Linked DNA regions of Homo sapiens. The protein of the gene in region 2 purifies or fractionates together with the protein of the main gene of each other region. This does not show direct contact. Each region holds a gene or a part of one and is shown on either strand. Other genes may lie near its edges.

Region 1 (3,500 bases), on a different chromosome or scaffold from region 2:
CAGTAGTCCCCCCCACCAACAATTTTGTTGTCAGCAGTTTCAGTTACCTGCGGTTAGCCAAAATTCCAAATATAAATAACTCATAAATTTTAAATTGTGCACCACTCTGAGTAGCATAATGAAATCTCTCACTGTACTACTCCATCCCACATGGGATGTAAATCATACATCCAGTGTATTTCTGCTGTATCCGTTACCTGCCCATTACTGTACAGAAAATAATAATAATAATAATAATAATAATAATAATAATGACAGAGTTTGGTACTATCTGAGGTTTTAAGCATACACTGGGGGTCTTGGAACATAACCCCCATGGATAAAGGGAGACTACTACAATTTATAATTTGTAAAACAATATGCAGTTTAAAAGTATACAACACAATACTATACACTGGGTATAGATACGTATGTTACTAAAATTGTGAAAAATATATAAGAGAAAAACACACACCAAGAGGAATAATTACCTCTGAGGTAGAAAAGAAGATGGGTGGAATTAAATATTAAGATATAGCAAAACACTGACATTTCCTAAACATAGGAAGTAGATTATAAGAAGATCTGTTACATTATTTTCCATACGTTTGAAGTAATTCATAGTTAACAAAATTATTGGGTTTCTTGTCTTTGTTCGAAACAAGGTCTGGCTCTATTGCCCAGGCAGGAGAGTAGTTGTGTGATCTCGACTCATCACAACCTCCGTCCCCCTCCCGGGCTCAAGCCATCTTCCCACCTTAGCCTCCCAAGTAGCTGGGACTACAGGTACGTACTACCATGTTTGGCTAATTTTTCTGTATTTTTTGTAGAGACGGGGTTTCACCATGTCGCCCAGGCTGGTCTCAAACTCGTGAGCTCAAGTGATCTGCCGGCCTCAGCCTCCCAAAGTGCTGGGATTATAGAGTGAGGCACTGCACCTGGCCAAAATTATTTTTGTATGAAGAGGACCCTAATTTTATCATATGGATGATAACTTATTGTTGATTTTACTTTTTATTTCTGATGAGCAACAATTTTTTAAAATACCTAGAGTGCTTAGTGATTATCTACGATTTAACCATTATTGGGCATATGCTGCCACCTAGCAAAACTTCCCAGAATAGTTTAATAACTAAACACAAATTGGTTCTTACGGAAATGCCCTAATTTAATATTTCAGAAAAAAATTATTAAAAAGTACTATGCACCTAATCACGACACAAGCGTTTTGTAACTTCATAAGCGCATACAAACGTGGTTCTTGACATTCTTATGTTTTACAATATGTGGAGGAAACTCATTTTGTTCTTTGGCACTTTAGTTTCTACCTTTACTGTCTTACATGAAATGAAAAGCAATTTTCTAATGGGCTTAATGGTAATTTGCTATCAAACAATAAAATAGGCCAGGCGTGGTGGCTCATGCCTGCAATCCCAGCACTCTGGGAGGCTGAGGCAGGCGGATCACGAGGTCAGGAGATCGAGACCATCCTGGCTAACACGGTGAAACCCTGTCTCTACTAAAAATACAAAAAAAAAAAAAAAAAAAATTAGCTGGGCGTGATGGTGGACGCCTGTAGTCCCAGCTAGTCGGGAGGCTGAGGCAGAAGAATGGCGTGAACCCAGGAGGTGGAGCTTTCAGTGAGCCAAGATCCTGCCACTGCACTCCAGCCTGGGCGACAGAGCGAGACTCCGTCTCAAAAAAAAAAATAAAAAATAAAAAATAAAAAAAAATAAAATGTCAGTTGTACATATAGGCCGTTGGCCTTCCTATGAAATTAAAGCACTCCATCAGATTGCTACACCTCCTAAATCTGATTTTTACATATCACTGCTGCCTAAATTTTAGAAAACAGATGACTTGAGAAAATCTAGCTCTAGTTTTGCAAATTATTTACGCACTAAATGCTATGGCACTGTTGTTTTCAATTGTGCATTTCTCCTCTAGTTCTAATGGAAAGGGAGGAAAAAAAGCATTTAGGAGATTTTCCCTCTCATTTGAACATTAGTTGACAGTTATGCTATCCATGCTTTCATCTGCCCATTATATACCTACTTCTTATTACCTGTAGACAAGGTACTGTGCTGGAGGTTAGGGAAGCTGCTATAAAAGCAATCAAAAATTCTCTCTTCAAAGTACCAAAAATATGCAATAAATAATCATCAGGATAGAGTAAAAAGTGATGGTTTATTTTTTAGAAGAGTAAAGATAAATTTTTACTTTACTTCGCAAGAATAACAACAAACTTTAATCTTAATCTCTTTACAACATACTTAGTATTGGAAGTTCTGGCCGGGGTAATCAGGCAAGAGAAAGAAATAAAGCGTATTCAAATAGGAAGAGAGGAAGTCAAACTGTCTCTATTTGCAGAAGACATGACTGTATATCTAGAAAACCCCATTGTTTCAGCCCCAAATCTCCTTAAGCTGATAAGCAATTTCAGCAAAGTCTCAGGATACAAAATCAATGTGCAAAAATCACAAGCATTCCCATACACCAATAATAGACAAACAGAGAGCCAAATCATGAGTGAACTCCCGATTCACAATTGCACAAAGAGAATAAAATGCCTAGAAATACAACTTACAGGGATGTGAAGGACCTCTTCAAGAACTACAAACCACTGTTCAAGGAAATAAGAGAGGACACATACAAATGGAAAAACATTCCATGCTCATAGATAGGAAGAATCAATATCGTGAAAACAGCCATACTGCCCAAAGTAATTTATAGATTTAAAGCTATCCCCATCAAGCTACCATTGACTTTCTTCACAGAATTGGAAAAAACTACTTTAAAGTTCATATGGAATCAAAAAAGAGCCTGCATAGCCAAGACAATCCTAAGTAAAAGGGACAAAGCTGGAGGCATCATGCTACCTGACTTCAAACTATAATACAAGGCTATAGTAACCAAAACAGCATGGTACTGGTACCAAAACAGATATATAGACCAATGGAACAGAACAGAGGCCTCAGAAACAACACCACACATCTACAAACATCTGATCTTTGACAAACCTGACAAAAACAAGCAATGGGGAAATGATTCCCTATTTAATAGATGGTGTTGGGAAAACTGGGTAGCCATATGCAGAAAACTGAAACTGGACCCCTTCCTTACACCTTATACAAAAATTAACTCAAGATGGATTAAAGACTTAAACGTCAGACCTAAAACCATAAAAACCCTAGAAGAAAACCTAGGCAATACCATTCAGGACTGAGGCATGGACAAAGACTACATGACTAAAACACCAAAAGCAATGGCAACAAAAGCCAAAAATGACAAATGGGATCTAATTAAACTAAAGAGCTTCTTCACAGCAAAAGCAACTATCATCAGAGTGAACATGCAACCTACAGAATGGGAGAAAATTTTTGCAATCTATCCATCGGACAAAGGGTTAATATCCAAAATCTACAAAGAACTTAAACAAATTTACAAGAAAAAAACAACCCCATCAAAAAGTGGGCGAAGGACATGAACAGACACTTCTCAAAAGAAGTCATTTATGCAGC
Region 2 (3,500 bases):
GTTTTTAGTTTATTTTTCCTTTGTTGATGGTTCAGGATAGGGAATTTATGGGAAGCAGCTATAAAACACTGCATTTGTCTTTTATTTTCATCTACCAGGGAATCTGTCTCTGGTTTTCCTTTCCTATTATCATTTTCTAGAGGGAGTTCTGGTTAATTCTGTCAGTCAGGCTATATTTTTTTCTTTTTACCTTGTGAAAGTCCTTTAAAGATGTAGCATATTAATTAGTATTATAAAGGAAGGAAGTCTTTCACTAACCCCTTTCTGCTCATATGAGAACCCAAGAGCTAAGTATCTTGGGAACTATTGATATTTTGGGCTGGATACTTGTTTGCTTGGGGAGCAGTCCTATGCATTCCAGGATGTTTACAGCATCCCTGGCCTCTATGCATTAGATGCCACTAGCACCCTCCACAATTATGACAGCCAAAAATGTTTCCAGACATTATTAAATGTTTCTTTGGGGGCACAGTGACCCTGGTCCAGAATCACTGATTTAGGTCTCCTGTTAAACTGTCTTAAAATACTGTGCTGTTTCTTCCAGTGATCATAGCAATTTTAAGTAATTTTAATAGTCTTTACCACTAGATAATAAGCTCTATGAGGACAGTGACTGTATTTCCTTTGTTTCATGTCCTTGGTTCATAGCACAGTATCTCAATATACAGTATATATGTGAAGTAAAGATTTTCTTTTTCTTTTTCTTTTTCTTTTTTTTTTTTTTGAGACTGGGTCTTGCTGTCATCGAGGCTCGAGGGCAGTGGTGCCATCAAGGGCTCACTGCAACCTCTGCCTCTGCCTCAAGCAATTCTCCCACCTCAGCCTCCTGAGTAGCTGGAACCACAGGCACGCACCTCCATGCCTGGGTAATTGTTGTGTTTTGAATAGAGATGGGGTCTTGCCATATTGCCCAGGCTGGTGTAGAACTCCTGGTCTCAAGAGACCTGCCCACCTTGACCTCCCAAAGTGCTGGAATTATAGGCATGTGCCACCGTGCCTGGCCGCTAAGTAAAGATTTCTTGAATGAATGGATGCAATCCTAGGTAGCTAAATGACCTTGGCCAAGGTAGTTAACATTTCTGAACATCTGGTTATTACTTTGGGGAGGAGAGTTGGAGAGGGAACTAGTCCATTGAAGATTTCAGTTAGGTTAAGTCCATTGTGAGTTTTATGTTGTCTAGTAATTATGTTATTTTCAAGTCTGATTTTGCTGTTTTTCTGTTTGAAATGACATATAGAAGTTTTTTTCTTACATTAAAAATAGAATACAAGGATAATTGAAACTGATAATGGTTTTGAGAGACTGCATGATTTGAGAGTGTTAATCACACATCATTAAATATAAAAAAATTTTAGGCATGATGGAAATGCATGTTTCGTGGAGTTCAATTATTTCATTCTAGACTAGCATTGAATTTGTTATAGTAATTGTGATTAACATTTAGGGGACTTTATAGCCCCAGTGTCCCAAAGAGTCATATTCTATGATCATTTGCTTCTTTTTTTTTTGAGATGGAGTCTTGCTTCTTCGCCCGGGCTGGAGTGCAGAGGCATGATCTTGGCTCACTGCAACCTCCGCCTCCTGGGTTCAAGCAATTCTCCTGCCTCAGCCTCCCCAGTAGCTGGAATTACAGGCATGTACCACCACACCCGGCTAATTTTTGTAATTTTAGTAGAGACGGGGTTTCACCATGTTGGCCAGGCTGATCTCGAACTCCTGACCTCAAGTGATCCGCCCGCCTCGGCCTCCCAAAGTGCTGGGATTACAGGTGTGAGCCACCGCGCCCGGCCCGTTTGCATCTTTTTCAGAAGGGGTATCAGTGGCTTAGAATTAGTGATAGTATTACTAGTTGTATGTACAATTTCAGATATCTCTTTCTAAGGCCAGTTACGCTGTTTTGGACAACTTCTAACTCATAATGGTGTGAAAGAATGTAATCAACCTTGACCTTGAACACTGGCTGAGCTCCTGAACTTTTAAGTGAGCTCATTTTGTCTGGTTTTGTGTTCTCAACATCTTTCTCTACTCCTCTCTCTCAGGATTGTGCCTCTACTCCTGCTTGTACAGACTGCTTTTCCAGCAGCATGGACACAAGAAGCATAGTAAGATGATGATAACCCACATAAGGCAGGCCCTTTGGAATATGTTAGGTTTCAATTGGTAGTGGAATAGTGTATTTGATTATATGGTTAGTACTTGGGAAGCAGAATGAAGTTTGTCACTTAGAATAGATTGGTAGTCTTAAAAGAGAGCGTCTAGGGAATAAGTTGAATTGCTTCACAAAAAGGTTAATTGGAGAAAAAAGTTTTATGCTCAATAGTGAGCATAAATCATATATATATAAACTTTTGTTATGTTTACTTGTATTCTGCTCCATGTGATTTTACAAAAGAGATAGAACTATTTGAGTGAATTGCAGACCTCTTAATTGAATAATAAAATACACCTTTTGAAGAATTTCTTTGAACTATAAGATGACAAATTATTGACATATATGCTATAGGAATAAAGAATTGAATTTTTGATTTTCTAATTATAGAGGCAGCAGATTGTGGTAGAGGTACTATTGATTATGAGAAATAAATGCTGATGAGAAATGTTTCTATAGTTTGTGATTTCGTACCTAAATGGATTCTGTCTCATATTTGATGGTAAACATGATGCATTTGCTTTTTCTGATTTTGATTTTATGCATTTGTTTTGTCTTTCTAATTTTGTTTTATAAGAGTTTCTGATACAGCCATCCTTTAAACTTAAGGAAGGCTATGTAAATGTATTAAAATACCTATTATAGGTCAGGAAAAATCTCAGTAACTTTGACATTTCTTTATTTATTCAGAATGGGGACTATGTTGCTCATGTTCTCTAAAGACAATTTTGACTATTAAGTTGATGTATGACAAATTTGTTTTTAAAATAATTCTGCAACTTAATGTGATTTATATAGATTGACTTGAAAGATGTAGGATTTCATTCTTTCATTAATTTGTTCATGCACGTAACTAATATTTAATGAACATGTATCGCGGCCTAGGGATTTTTTTTTCCATCTCCTGGGATATAGTGGTAAACCAGACAAGCAAAAACCATGCCCTCTTGGAGCCTATGTTGTTGTGATTCTTTTCCTTTTGTCTCATTAGCAGTTTGTGTATTGAACTTGCTGCAGAGCTGGGGAGGCTGTGCAGGCATTACTGACTCCAGCATTGCTTCTTTGCTAGGGACTATGTTGTTTGCAGCCTGATCCGTTCTTAGCATTTTGCCTCTTAGAGTCCAGATTGCCTGTCCACTGTTCAAAATAGAGACTGAACAGGTAGACTTAGTTAAATGATTTTTCAAACAGTGGGAAAATATGACTAGCTACATTGTTTTATACAAAATTGTCTGTTATATATGTTTTAAAATCTCCATTTGATATTTTGGAATCTTAACTATTTCTTGTAAAATACAGCTTTAAGAATGTTTTCTTTTGTCCGTGAGAATCATTAGTCTCCACATGCAT
Region 3 (3,500 bases), on a different chromosome or scaffold from region 2:
AAACAATTCCATTTGCAACAGCATCAAAAAGAATAATCAGGAATAAACTTAACTGAAGAGGCAAAAGACTTGTTTACTGAAAACCAAAAAACACTGCTGAAAGAAATTAAAGTAGACACAAATAAATGAAAAACATTCCGTACTCATGGACTGGGAGACTTAAAGTTGTTAAGATGTTAATACTACCCAAGCAATCTACAGATTCAATACAATTCCTATCAAAATCCAATGTGTGTGTATATATACGTTTTTACAGAAACAGAAAAATCCATCCTAAAACTCACAGGGAATCTCAAAAGATACCAAATAGCCAAAACAATCTTGAAAAGAACAACAAAAATGCAGATCTCATATTTTCTGATTTCAAAACTTATTACAAAGCTGTAATAAGTTTCTGTAGTTTGCTGACCCCTGCTTCAGAGGATTTCATCGAGTGTGACAGCAGCAGAGACGGAACTCACAGACCCATGCACCTCAACCTTAGGGTCTAGGAACGTCATCTGGTTTTTAGAGAATTACAGAGAGTGCTCAAAAGTGTGGCTGCTGGTCACCAGTGCAAACAGGATTTCATTAGCTTCTCAATCTGCTCTAGTAAGTCCTTTGTGAACAGAAATACCCTCCCAGTAGTATGCTCATTCAGTAAGCTAGTTAATGTCTGAAAAATTCACGTTCCAACTCTATTATCAAATGGAACGATTACTTTTTATTGGTTTTTAGAAAAACACAGAATTTTCAATAGATGACATCCGTCTTTTCATTATCCCACCTTCCTTTCTGAATCCTTCCTCCTGCTACCTATTCTGTAAATGATCAGTAGCATTCTGAGAGTTATACTTCCCAGTGAATTAGGGAGTCAATGTTTCTGCCATTTCTACTGTGCATGTTTTCATGCTGTTTTAGTTAAGTAGAAAATTCTCTGCATTGACGAAAGTATCTTTATTTTGCCTAATTCTAATGACTGGCAGATGTGACAGATTAACATGGCTTGAGTTATAAAAGCTCCATTATCACTAGAAGCAGGGAGAGATTAGAAGCTTCCATTTAGTTTTACAGCCAAGGGAAAGCTAATGAGAATTCTAAAACTTTTTTTTCAAGAAATTAACAAAACACATGGATTAAAGGTATAATGCACCGCAACTGTTTTAACAGCTAGAAGAATAAAGAACTTTTTTTCTTTCTTTTCTTTTTCTTTTTTTTTGAGACGGAGTCTCACTCTGTCACCCAGTACAACCTCGGCTCACTGCAACCTCTGCCTCCTGGCTTCAAGCGATTCTCCTGCCTCAGCCTCCTGAGTAGCTGGGATTACAGGCACCCGCCACTATGCCCGGCTAATTTTTTGTATTTTTAGTAGAGATGGGGTTTCACCACGTTGTCTAGGCAGGTCTTGAACTCCTGACCTCGTGACTCGCCTGCCTTGGCCTCCCAAAGTGCTGGGATTACAGGCGTGAGCCACCATGCCCAGCCAAAGAATTCTTTTTCAAGAGGTTTTAGTTCAACCTGTCTATCCTAGGACATGAGGTTTCCAGAGCTTGTCTGCAGGGATGACACATTTACTCTTAGTCTCTTGGGCTTCCAAAGAAAGCGGAAGCTGTCAGAGGAAGCTACTCAATGAGTTAGAGAGACGTTACCTGAATCCACGCCTGCTGTTTGATGTCGCCTTTGTGGGTTTTACCTTCATAGCCTTTGCCACCATACTTCTGATCTTCACTTATGCATTTCACGTGGTTTTTATAGTCATCGCCCCTTTAAAGTGATCAAAAGTTCTGCCATTAGACTGATACCCAAGTTGGAGGCGCTAATACCAGCATGCTGCCACTATCTTCTGTGGTCTACACTGTATATTTTCACATGTGTCTATCACACAAGCACCCCATCTATTTCACTTATTATGTTTACAGCCTCCTGGTCAGAACCACATCCCCCTTCCTCCAAAGTCGTCAATATAAAACCCATCACCAAACTTTTCCCCCATTTTTATAAACACCTTAAGCTAAATTGATAGGCAGTATTTTTTTAAGTCATAAGTGTACATATACTGAATAAACAAGAAAATAGTTCTATGCAATAGGGTAGTTTTTTTAAATTATAAAAATCTCAATGTCTAATAGACAGTCAATAATTAGTTGTAGAATAAATCAAAAACAGATATAAAATGGCAGCATGAGGTTACCAACAGTTCTGGATCCCTTAGGGTCCTGAGAAAAAAGAAAACTAAATTCTCTCTCATATAATCTTTGTAAAGCTCTATGGGGTTCTTCAGGGAAATGTTGGGGACAAGGTCCAGGGCAAAGTCCCCTAATGAAAACTCAATTTTAACCTACTTTATATATCAAGCTTCCTCCTAGGATTACGTCTGAACAGAGGTTAGCAGTTTCCAAAAAAAATCACTGCTCCAGAATGAATTAAAAGAGAGTATTAGCCAGTACCATCCGAATGCCTCAGAGGACACTGGGGCAGATGCAGCCAGAAGCCAGCTTCTCGCCTGGACCTTCTGAGGCTGAAGGGGAATCAACATGAAATTCAAGAGGGGAGCCCTCTGCAAACGACCCACCTGAAGAACCGGTGTCTAAGGCAGGATCTGTCCTGTCCCTCCCCGCTAACTCCTCACATTCACAGAGGCCTCCTCAGTGGAAGTGTCTCCTGACACACCCGTGGGGCCAGGAAGAGCCTCACTTCCACCAGCACCTCTGATTTTCTAGGGAGGACATAGTTTCCTCTGCTACCAGTCATCTGCCCCACTGTGAGCTCATAAATTCACTTTCTGGTTCATAAGTCCATCTCTCCACTGTGATGGGCATGTGATACCCATGGTCTAATGAAACTGGCTCTAAACCCCTGGAGCCATCTTCCACGCAGTTAGTTCCCTGGGTCTGTAAACAGTGGCAATGCAATAGCAACCAGTGTCACCAACTGACTGAACACTCTAATCATCATAATTCCCCTTCCCCTAGTCTTTTCTTTAACATATCCTCAAAAAGCAAATTGTTTCGTAAAGCACATTTCTCCCCCCCAAGAAGGGGTTAACTTGCTCTGTTGCCCAGGCTGGAGTGCAGTGGTGAAATCTCGGCTCACCGCAACCTCTGCCTCCTGGGTTCAAGCGATTCTCCTGCCTCAGCCTCCCGAGTAGCTGGGATTACAGGCGCCCACCACCACGCCTGACTAATTTTTGTATTTTTAGTAGAGACAGGGTTTCACTATGTTGGCCAGGCTGGTCTTCAACTCCTGACCTCATGAGCCACCCACCTTGGCCTCCCAAAGTGCTGGGATTACAGGCCTGAGCCACTGCGCCCGGCCTAGTAAAGCACATTTGAAAGAATCACACCAGTTTTAATCAATGGAACATACCAGTTTTTAGTCTTAATTTCATTCTTCAAATTTGCCACTATTTTTCCAAGCTTTGTGGCGCCAAGGCTTCCAAAACTGATCTGGATTTACTATGGATCTACATGAATTCTGTGAAGCTTACCAGAAATCTTTACCGCAGTCAATGCAAGAAAGGC
Region 4 (2,422 bases), about 18 Mb from region 2:
TTTATTTGCATTTCCCTAATCCCTAATGATGTTGAGCACTTTTTTATGTGCTTACTTTTGCCCATCATTTTTCATTAGATTGCCTTTTATTATTGAGTTGTATTGGTTCTTTATGTATTCTTGATACAAGTTGTCAGGTGTATATTTTATGAATATTTTATATAACTGTGTCTTGCCTGTTCATTTTCTTAACAGTGTCTTTTGATGAGCAAAAGTTTTATTTTTGATTGAGTGTAACTTACCAAATTTTTGATTATTACTTTTTGTATCCCTAAGAAATCTTTACTTACCTCTGTATTGAGAATATATTTTCCTTTTTTTTTTTCTGAAAGTGTTATACAGTTTGCTTTTATATTTAGGTCTGTGGTGCATCTCAAATTCATTTTTATGTGCAAAGTTGGGGTCAGGATTCACTTTTTTCCCTATGGATATTCAGTTGTTCTGCCACCATTTATTGAAAAGACTATTTTTTCCTTTTGCTCTTTAATTGTTTTGGTACCTTTGTTGAAAGCCATTTGTCCAAGTGTGGGGCCTATTTCTGAACTCTGTTCTCTTCCTTTGATCTACTTGTCTTTATCCTAATCCTGCACAGTCTTGATTACAGTAGTTTCGTGCTGAGTCTGGAAGTCAGCTAGTGTTAAGTAGTGCAGCTTTGTTTCATTTCAAGATTCTTTTGGCTAAGTCCTGGCATTTCCACATAAATTTTAAAAATTGCCTCATCCATTTCTATTAAAAAACGAGTATATAGAAACACAGTGGTTTTCATATATTAATTTTATACCCGGAGACATTGCTATATTCACTAAGTTTTTAATGCATAGTTCCTGAACACCCTGGACTTTCTTCCCTTCATGTTTTCCTATGGCTCTGTAGATGTGAATGTCCTTGTCTTTTATGTCTGCCTCCTACAGAGGTCCAGTGGGAATGCCATGGCATTGTGAAGTTGTCTGACACTGTCCCAGCTGGAATCATATAGTCCCCCTAAGAGTCTCTGTTAGTGCACCTTCCACACTCAGTCTTGAATGAGCCATTTTTTGAAGGCAAGAGCTTTACTTTATCTTCCTCTCCAGTCCCACAATATTGAGCACAGCATCTTGTTCACAGTCTGGAACGTATCTTTTCGACATTTATATCAGATAGTAGGGAATTATGTAGCTGTTGGGTGAAGTGAAGGTGGGGGACATTCTTATAGGAAACCTCAGTCAATTGAAATATACCAATTGGAATATACTCAATCAATGGGAATCAGTTGGAATACCCTGAGGTATATCCTAAAAAGGGAATATGGACCTTTTATCAAAAACGTAGCCCTATGTTTTCCCTATTCAAAAATATGTTTACTAGTGGATGATTTACGACACTCTAAATGACTTGAGTTTTTGCTGTCAATTTTGAATTTTTGTATGTCTAAATACGTTTCTTCTTACTTCATTTTTGTTTTCTAGGTGGCTGACTGTTCTTGGGATGAAACAATAAAGATCTATGACCCTGCTTGTCTTACTATTCCTGCTTGAGATACACTACTTTGGTCAGAAACAGAGGATGTTGGCTGAAGAACTGCCTAACAGCAAATAAATTAACTATGGAAAACATAGACATTATGCTTTTATATGCTATTCAGATTTCAAATCTTTCCAATTTACCCTGGAATCAGTTTTGAGGGAGCTGATAAAGACTTTAGCTGACTCGTTAAGCCTGATACATAAGCCATATTTAAAATTCTAAGAAATAATTAATGTTATGATATATCTTGTAGTATCTATTAAAATGTCTCTGGGTCATAAAATGGATTAAAATATGGGAGATCAGTAGGTTATACTTATATAGATAGTGATATATTTCATTTTTAATTTGTCATTTTTGATGTAAAATATAATCACTGCTGTGATAAATAAACTATCTATTGATCATTTATCATTTTATAACTTCCCCCAAAAGACTGCTCTTTCTAATACATTGTATATGTGAATATAGTACTATATATAATATAGATATATCTGTGGTTCAGTAACAGGACACTAGAATATATTTAATTTATTCTTTTATTTAGTAGCTGTTTATTGAGCATCTACTCAGTGCTTGACACATAGACTCAATGAGATTCTGTCAAGGACTGGTGCCATGTTTTTAAGAACATGGAATGCTGTGAGCTAAGAGCTTACTTTTTTTTTTTTCTTAGAATTTATTCACACATTTTTAGATATTGTACCCATGACTCTATAATTTTGTCTTCCCACTTCTCTAATATCAAAATTTTTTTAAACTGTCAATTAAACAAAAAGTTTTAGGTCCTACTAAGGCTTCTAGCTTTTGCCCTTGAAACCAGGCCTAAGTACAGCTATACGTGCTCCTTGCCACCTCCCTAAGTTTTCTTGAAAAAGCTCTAGGTGCAGATGAACTGAAAAAAACAAAAAAAGTTGGT

Evidence for each region.
Region 1: the proteins of SCAF8 (region 2) and SRFBP1 purify together in Homo sapiens (co-immunoprecipitation; one large-scale study listed by IntAct). This does not show direct contact.
Region 3: the proteins of SCAF8 (region 2) and LYAR purify together in Homo sapiens (co-immunoprecipitation; one large-scale study listed by IntAct). This does not show direct contact.
Region 4: the proteins of SCAF8 (region 2) and PEX7 purify together in Homo sapiens (co-immunoprecipitation; one large-scale study listed by IntAct). This does not show direct contact.

The regions. Positions count from the first base shown.
Region 1 is NC_000005.10:121,964,975-121,968,474, reverse strand, and holds part of SRFBP1 (serum response factor-binding protein 1), read right to left. Parts: intron 1-3,500. UniProt on the Homo sapiens protein: May be involved in regulating transcriptional activation of cardiac genes during the aging process. May play a role in biosynthesis and/or processing of SLC2A4 in adipose cells.
Region 2 is NC_000006.12:154,739,916-154,743,415, forward strand, and holds part of SCAF8 (SR-related and CTD-associated factor 8), read left to right. Parts: intron 1-2,040; coding exon of another isoform or gene 2,041-2,103; intron 2,104-3,500. UniProt on the Homo sapiens protein: Anti-terminator protein required to prevent early mRNA termination during transcription. Together with SCAF4, acts by suppressing the use of early, alternative poly(A) sites, thereby preventing the accumulation of non-functional truncated proteins.
Region 3 is NC_000004.12:4,280,155-4,283,654, forward strand, and holds part of LYAR (cell growth-regulating nucleolar protein), read right to left. Parts: coding exon 3,467-3,500; intron 1,744-3,466; coding exon 1,629-1,743; intron 1-1,628. UniProt on the Homo sapiens protein: Plays a role in the maintenance of the appropriate processing of 47S/45S pre-rRNA to 32S/30S pre-rRNAs and their subsequent processing to produce 18S and 28S rRNAs. Also acts at the level of transcription regulation.
Region 4 is NC_000006.12:136,912,013-136,914,434, forward strand, and holds the end of PEX7 (peroxisomal biogenesis factor 7), read left to right. Parts: intron 1-1,445; coding exon 1,446-1,514; 3' UTR 1,515-1,922; downstream 1,923-2,422. UniProt on the Homo sapiens protein: Receptor required for the peroxisomal import of proteins containing a C-terminal PTS2-type peroxisomal targeting signal. Specifically binds to cargo proteins containing a PTS2 peroxisomal targeting signal in the cytosol.